2 separate regions of the Homo sapiens genome follow, and region 1 is linked to region 2. The links come from fine-mapping of genetic effects on gene expression. A gene starts in region 2. The other region holds a variant in brackets. All regions are shown on one strand. Distances are between the middles of the regions.

What was found. PIP is the estimated chance that this variant, and not a neighbour inherited with it, causes the effect.
Region 1: its variant is the best candidate, but not a certain one, in a credible set for the expression of SLC25A45 in whole blood (TOPMed, PIP 0.73).

The regions. Positions count from the first base shown.
Region 1 is chr11:65,216,205-65,219,104 of GRCh38, forward strand. It overlaps the pseudogene SLC22A20P. Among named protein-coding and RNA genes, the nearest start is that of CAPN1, 36 kb to the left of the region's middle. RefSeq lists enhancers at 508-1,071, 1,072-1,635. The variant C/T (reference allele first, on the strand shown) is at 1,692.
Region 2 is chr11:65,381,321-65,384,220 of GRCh38, forward strand. SLC25A45 (solute carrier family 25 member 45) reads right to left here and starts at 1,326. Exons shown (of 7, transcript NM_182556.4): 1 at 1,166-1,326; 2 at 595-649. The coding sequence starts at 631. It also overlaps a transcript of FRMD8 not described here. RefSeq lists enhancers at 435-963, 512-641, 629-1,828, 772-1,051, 964-1,491 and 4 more and a silencer at 2,458-2,752.

The DNA.
Region 1 (2,900 bases), 170 kb before region 2:
GTGGGTGAGTGAGTGGGTGAGCGAGCGGGTGAGCGAGTGAGTCAGTGAGTGAGTGGATGAGTGAGTGAGTGGGTGGGTGAATGGATAAGTGAGTGGGTGGGTGGGTGGGTGAGTGGATGAGTGAGTGAGTGAGTGGGTGCGTGAGTGGGTGAGCGAGCGAGTGAGCAAGTGAGTCAGTGAGTGAGTGGATGAGTGGGTGGGTGGGTGAGTGGGTGGGTGGGTGAGTGGGTGGGTGAATGAGTGGGTGGGTGGGTGGGTGAGTGAGTGGGTGAGTGGGTGGGTGGCTCGGTGGGTGAGTGAGTGAGTGCATGAGTGAGCGAGTGAGTCGGTGAGTGAGTGAGTGAGTGGGTGGGTGAATGAGTGAGTAGGTGGGTGGGTGAGTGGGTGGGTGAGTGAGTGCGTGGGTGGGTGAGTGAGTGCGTGGGTGGGTGAGTGAGTGGGTGGGTGAGTGGGTGAGTGAGCGAGTGAGCGAGTGAGTCGGTGAGTGAGTGGATGAGTGAGTGGGTGGGTGAGTGGATGGGTGAGTGGGTGGGTGGGTGAGTGAGTGGGTGGGTGGGTGGGTGAGTGAGTGGGTGAGTGGGTGGGTGAGTGAGTGGGTGGGTGGGTGAGTGAGTGGGTGGGTGAGTGGGTGGGTGAGTGAGTGGGTGGGTGGGTAAGTGAGTGGGTGGGTTGGTGGGTGGGCGAGTGAGTGAGTGGGTGGGTGAGTGAGTGGGCGAGCAAGCGAGTGGGTCATGGAGTGTGTGGAGAAGAAAAGCTGCCTGTCTTCTTGGCCTGCTTCCCTGCTGGCCAAGTTGAGGCTGTGCGCTCTGGCCCTGGACCCTCATTTGCAAACAGGGCAGATCACCCTGCCATCCTGTCCTTGGGCCCCTCTGTGGCATGGCAACCCTCTGGTCCACATAATGACTCCACCCTGGCTCCTGCTCCCACACCAGGGACTGGCCAAGGGCTCACCCGCTGTGAGTTCTGGTTCGAGGCCTCCCTCCAGCCACAGCAGTGCTCAGGTGACCTCTCCCCACCTGCCACACGCCCCTCTGGGGCTTTGCAGAATCCCTGCCTTTCCTCGAGCCCGGACTAAATCTCCTCGCCAGCTTCCTTCTACACTATGTCCCTCTGTCTGTGACCAACCTCTGCCACGAAGCCTGGGTCCCAGCAGTTTCAAGTTTCTGTTTTGGAAGGGTGGCTTTCGCGGGGTACCCCATCTTCCCCGGGACTGCCTTGATAATCCCCTGCTCGGGTGAAAGGGGCAGGCGTGGGCTGCCCATTTGTTCCTTGGGGGATGCTGCTGCTGCCTCCCAAAACCCTAATGCCTGTGCCCATTCTCTGGACTCAGGCTGGGCTGCAAGGGCCCCCTGGTCTGGTCCTACCTGCAGCTGGCAGCTTCGGGGGCCGCCACAGCGTATTTCAGCTCCTTCAGTGCCTATTGCGTCTTCCGGTTCCTGATGGGCATGACCTTCTCTGGCATCATCCTCAACTCCGTCTCCCTGGTGAGTCCAGCCGAGGAGAGGCCAGGAAGGGCGGGGGCTCCTGAAAGAGCAGGGCGGGGGCGGGGGGACAGGGGGGTGGCAACGTCGAGGGTCATCGGACATTTTTCTCATGTTGTTTTGTTGGGATTCTCATCCAGCAACCTCAACTCAAAGCCTCCCGCCAGAGTTCTGGACCTGGGGGACCTGGGCTCCCGGGTAGTGGTGGCC[C/T]TGCTGGCTGTGGGTGGGGAGTCCCTGGATGGCCTTTCCCAGGTCTGGGCTTTAGTGTACTCATCTGTAAATTGAGAGGGTTAGGTTTATTTTATTTGTGAATTAGCCAACAATAACCACTTACTAAGCACCTATTGTCTCCAGGCTTAGTGTGGGGACACAGAGGCCACTGGGACACAGGAGAGGAGTGAGCCATGATGGTCCCCAGGGCAGCAGCCAGCCCTGAAATTGTATGACTCTATGAAGGCTGGTGATTCCTCAGCTTCATGGTGGAGACCTGGCTCCTGGATGCCAGCTTGGAGTGTTGCGCCCCCAAGTGATAAGTGGCAGGCTCAGTCCTCACTCTAGGCTGGTTCTGGGCAGCCCCTGGGTGGTCCTAGGAGAAAGCATCACGGGGCAGAAGGAAGCCCACCCAGGACACAGGCCTGCCACCTACCTATGTTTCATTTTAACTACTTAGCTTGCTCCTGGGGACACCACTGGGCACGGAAACTGCTGCCACCATCAGCTGTGCAAAGACAGGATGGATCTTTTATATCAGGGGTCAGGAAGAAATCTTGGGACCAGAGAACCAGGACACCTGACCTCCCCTCCCTCTCCCAGCACACAGCGGGATCTCAGCCAATCCCAGCCTACACAGCTCACTCTGCAGGGTGGGCATCCAGCCATGGCTTGAAACAGGTGTCTGAGGTCCACCTCGTGCTGGAATGGGCTCTAACACCTACACAGACACATACAGACACACACAGACACATACAGACACACATACACACGCATCAGAGACTGCCCAGCCTCTTAACACTTCCTGAGGCTGGAGAGGCCGGGCACTGTCTGGGGACATCTCCGCCTGTAAAGACGACTTTGTAGAGATTCCATCGAGTGCCCTGGAGCTCCCACCACAGGCCATGCCCTGCCTCGGGTCCCACCGCACAAGTGTGGTGACCCTCCATACATATATGCCTCCCCTCATGTTTGTTCCTGCGCACACTGTTCTGTATCTTGATTCTTTCACTTAACCAAGCTGTCACTGGTCCACTGCCTGATAGAGAGCCTCCTAGTGCCAGGAGAGGCTCTAGAGGTTGCGGTGAACACAGCCCTGCTCCTTGGAGTCCATGTTCTAGCGAGGCGAGATATCACCAGCATGCATAACGAATCGTATAGTATGTTCGAAGACAGTAAGTGCTACAGAGGAAAACCGAAGCCTGGAAA
Region 2 (2,900 bases):
GGGTTTCACCATGTTGGCCAGCCTGGTCTCGAAATCTTGACCTCATGATCCACCTACCTCAGCCTCCCAAAGTGCTGGGCTTACAGGCATGAGCCACCGCGCCCAGCCTCTCATTTCTTATAAAGACAGGGTCTTCCTATGTTGCCCAGGCTGGTCTCAAACTCCTGGCCCCAAGTGATCCTCCTACCTCAGCCTCGCAAAGTGCTGGGATTACAGGTGTGAGCCACCATGCCCTGATTCTTTTTTTTTTTTTTTTTTTTTTTTTGTGGCAGGGTCTCATTCTGTCACCCAGGCTGGAGTGCAGTGGTGCAGTCATAGCTCACTGCAGCCTTGAACTCCTGAGCTCAAGCAATCCTCCTAAGTAGCTGGGACTACAGGTGTGAGCCACCATGCCCAGCTAATTATTTTGATTTTTTTGTAGAGACAGGGGCCTCCCTATGTTGCCCAGACTGGTCTCAAACTCCTGGGCTCAAGTGATCCTCCCGCCAGGCCGGAACTCAGACTTTGGTCTCTGCTCCTCCCATGTCACCCATCTTCCCGAGGAAGTGACCTACCATTGGGTGTGATGTGACAGAAGGAAGAAAAATGTCTCACCAGAGATCCAGCCAGCCACAAATTCCTCCACCGGCATTGTCTGGGCTTGCGGGAACTGGTGGCTCCAGCAGAGGAGACAGAGTTGAATTCCCCCCTCTCCCTCCCCTGGCCCACGCTGATAACCTCCCACTAATGTTTAACCCTGGCGGGAAGGTGAGAATTGGCCTGGTGCCCAGACCTCCGGCAACTGGCAGAGGAGAGCGAGCCAGTTCCGGTGACCCTGGCCACCTGGAGGAGTCGTGCAGAGTACAGTCTCACGGGCCAGGCGTGCCGGGACCACAGAGGCCCTGATCCCCGAGCCCGGCCAATGATCCTCGCTCTGAGGATGGCAACTGGGTTCCTGCCCCATGGTCGGGCCCCTCCAGGGCTGCCTTAGTCAGCAAGAGGCAAGCCCCTGCCTGCCCAGCCAGCCCAGCTCCACTCCCATTCATCTCCACCAAGGGGCATGGCCGCCCCCATGCCACAGAGAGAGGCCGGGTGCGGAGGTAGCGTGGCCACCAGGGGGTAGGCCCAGCCCGCATTTGCCGCTGCGTGGCAGGGTGGGGAGGAGCCACTCCCAGGAGTGACTCACCAGGCCTGGCTGTTCTCTTCAGGGTTGTTTACGACTCCCCCGACTCCCCCGTGTGAGTCAGAAACACAGCCTTCCTCGGCTTCCTCCTTCCCAGGGGAAAGATAGGGGTTTTGATTATTTAAAGTGCGTGTTGATCTGCAATGGCACCATTCTGCTCAGTCAAAACCAAAACCCTTTCAAGGATCTGTGAGCCACAGGGTGCCGCCCATTCTCCTCTGACCTCACGTCCTGCCACCCACCCCCTTGCTTTCTCTGCTGCAGCCACCCGAGCCTCCAGACTCTTCTTCAGTCAGCCTTCTGTCTCCAGGCCTGTGGACTGGCTCTTCCCTCTTCCTGGGCACTCTTGCCCTGGCACCCCTCCAGCTGGGGCTCAAATGTCACCACCTGGGTGAGGTCTGCCCCGCCTCCCCAGCCGGAGGCACTGCTGGCTCTTCCTCTCTTTCTCCATCACAGTTATCACGCCAACATACGATGGGAAGAACTTGTCTGTCTGGACAGGGATCTCTGGGTGTTCTGTGCACAGCGGGTGGCACAGGGTGGGCTCTCAATAAATCCTGAGTGACTGAATGAACGGAAATGTCAGCCAGCAGCATCAGCGGCAGCCTGGGGCTCCAGTTCCCTCTTCCCATCACCAAACGGCCCTGGGAAACATCAAGGCCCAGTGACACCTGCACCCTCCCCTCCAGATCTCCCCGCAGCTCCTAGTCTCCCATGGGGGACGCCCAAGGCCCAGTCCTTCTCTCCCTTCTCCTCTCACTGTGGCCAAGGCAGAACCCACCCACCCCTGCTGCTTTCTCCCGGGTGGACAGATTCGGGAAACAGGACCTCCTACCTCCTGCCTCTGGAGCTGCCTGGGGCTCCTTGGGCCACCCCCAAAGATCATCCTAAAAGACCATCCCCAAAGACTGGCCTCTCGTGGTGGCTTGGGCTGCAGTCCTGGTTCTGCTTCTTATTCCTGAAACTGCCTTTGCAAAAACTATAACTGATACAGGCCAGGCGCAGTGGCTCACGCCTGTAATCCCAGCACTTTGGGAGGCCGAGGCGGAAGGACCACCTGAGGTCAGGAGTTCGAGACCAGCCTGACCAACATAGTGAAACCCCATCTCTACCAAAAATACAAAAATTAGCCGGGTGTGATGACGGGCGCCTGTAGTCCCAGCTACTTGGGATGCTGAGGCAGGAGAATCGCTTGAACCCGAGAGGCAGCTGTTGCAGTGAGCCAAGATCATGCCACTATACTCCAGCCTGGGCAACAGAGCGAGACTCCGTCTCAAAAAAAAAAAACAAACAAACAAACAAAAAAAAAACCCTCCTGTCTCTCGTACAGCCAGCTCTGCATGAATTAAACTCTCCTTATTGCAATTCCCCTGTCTTGACAAATTGGCTCTGTCTAGGCAGAGGGTAAGGTGAACCCAATGGGCGGTTACATTATCTCTCTCAGTGATGTTGAGCAACCTCTTCTGTGGGCCTTGGGGTCTATTATTGTTTGCCAAAGTAGGACAGCAGTCGGGCTAATTGATGTCTAAGCCTCTCAGCTCTAAAGGCTGGAGGCCGCCTCCTCCCTCACTTCAGAATGGGTCTCATTCTCTTTTCCAATCTCACCGCCTCACCCCAGTTTGAGAAAGACCCTCATTCCCACTTCCCTACAGCCTTGCTGAAGGGAAGCCCACCTAAGCATGGCGTCATCTTGTGAATCTCTAGCTCACAACCTCCAAAATGTTCTTACTGTCTAACA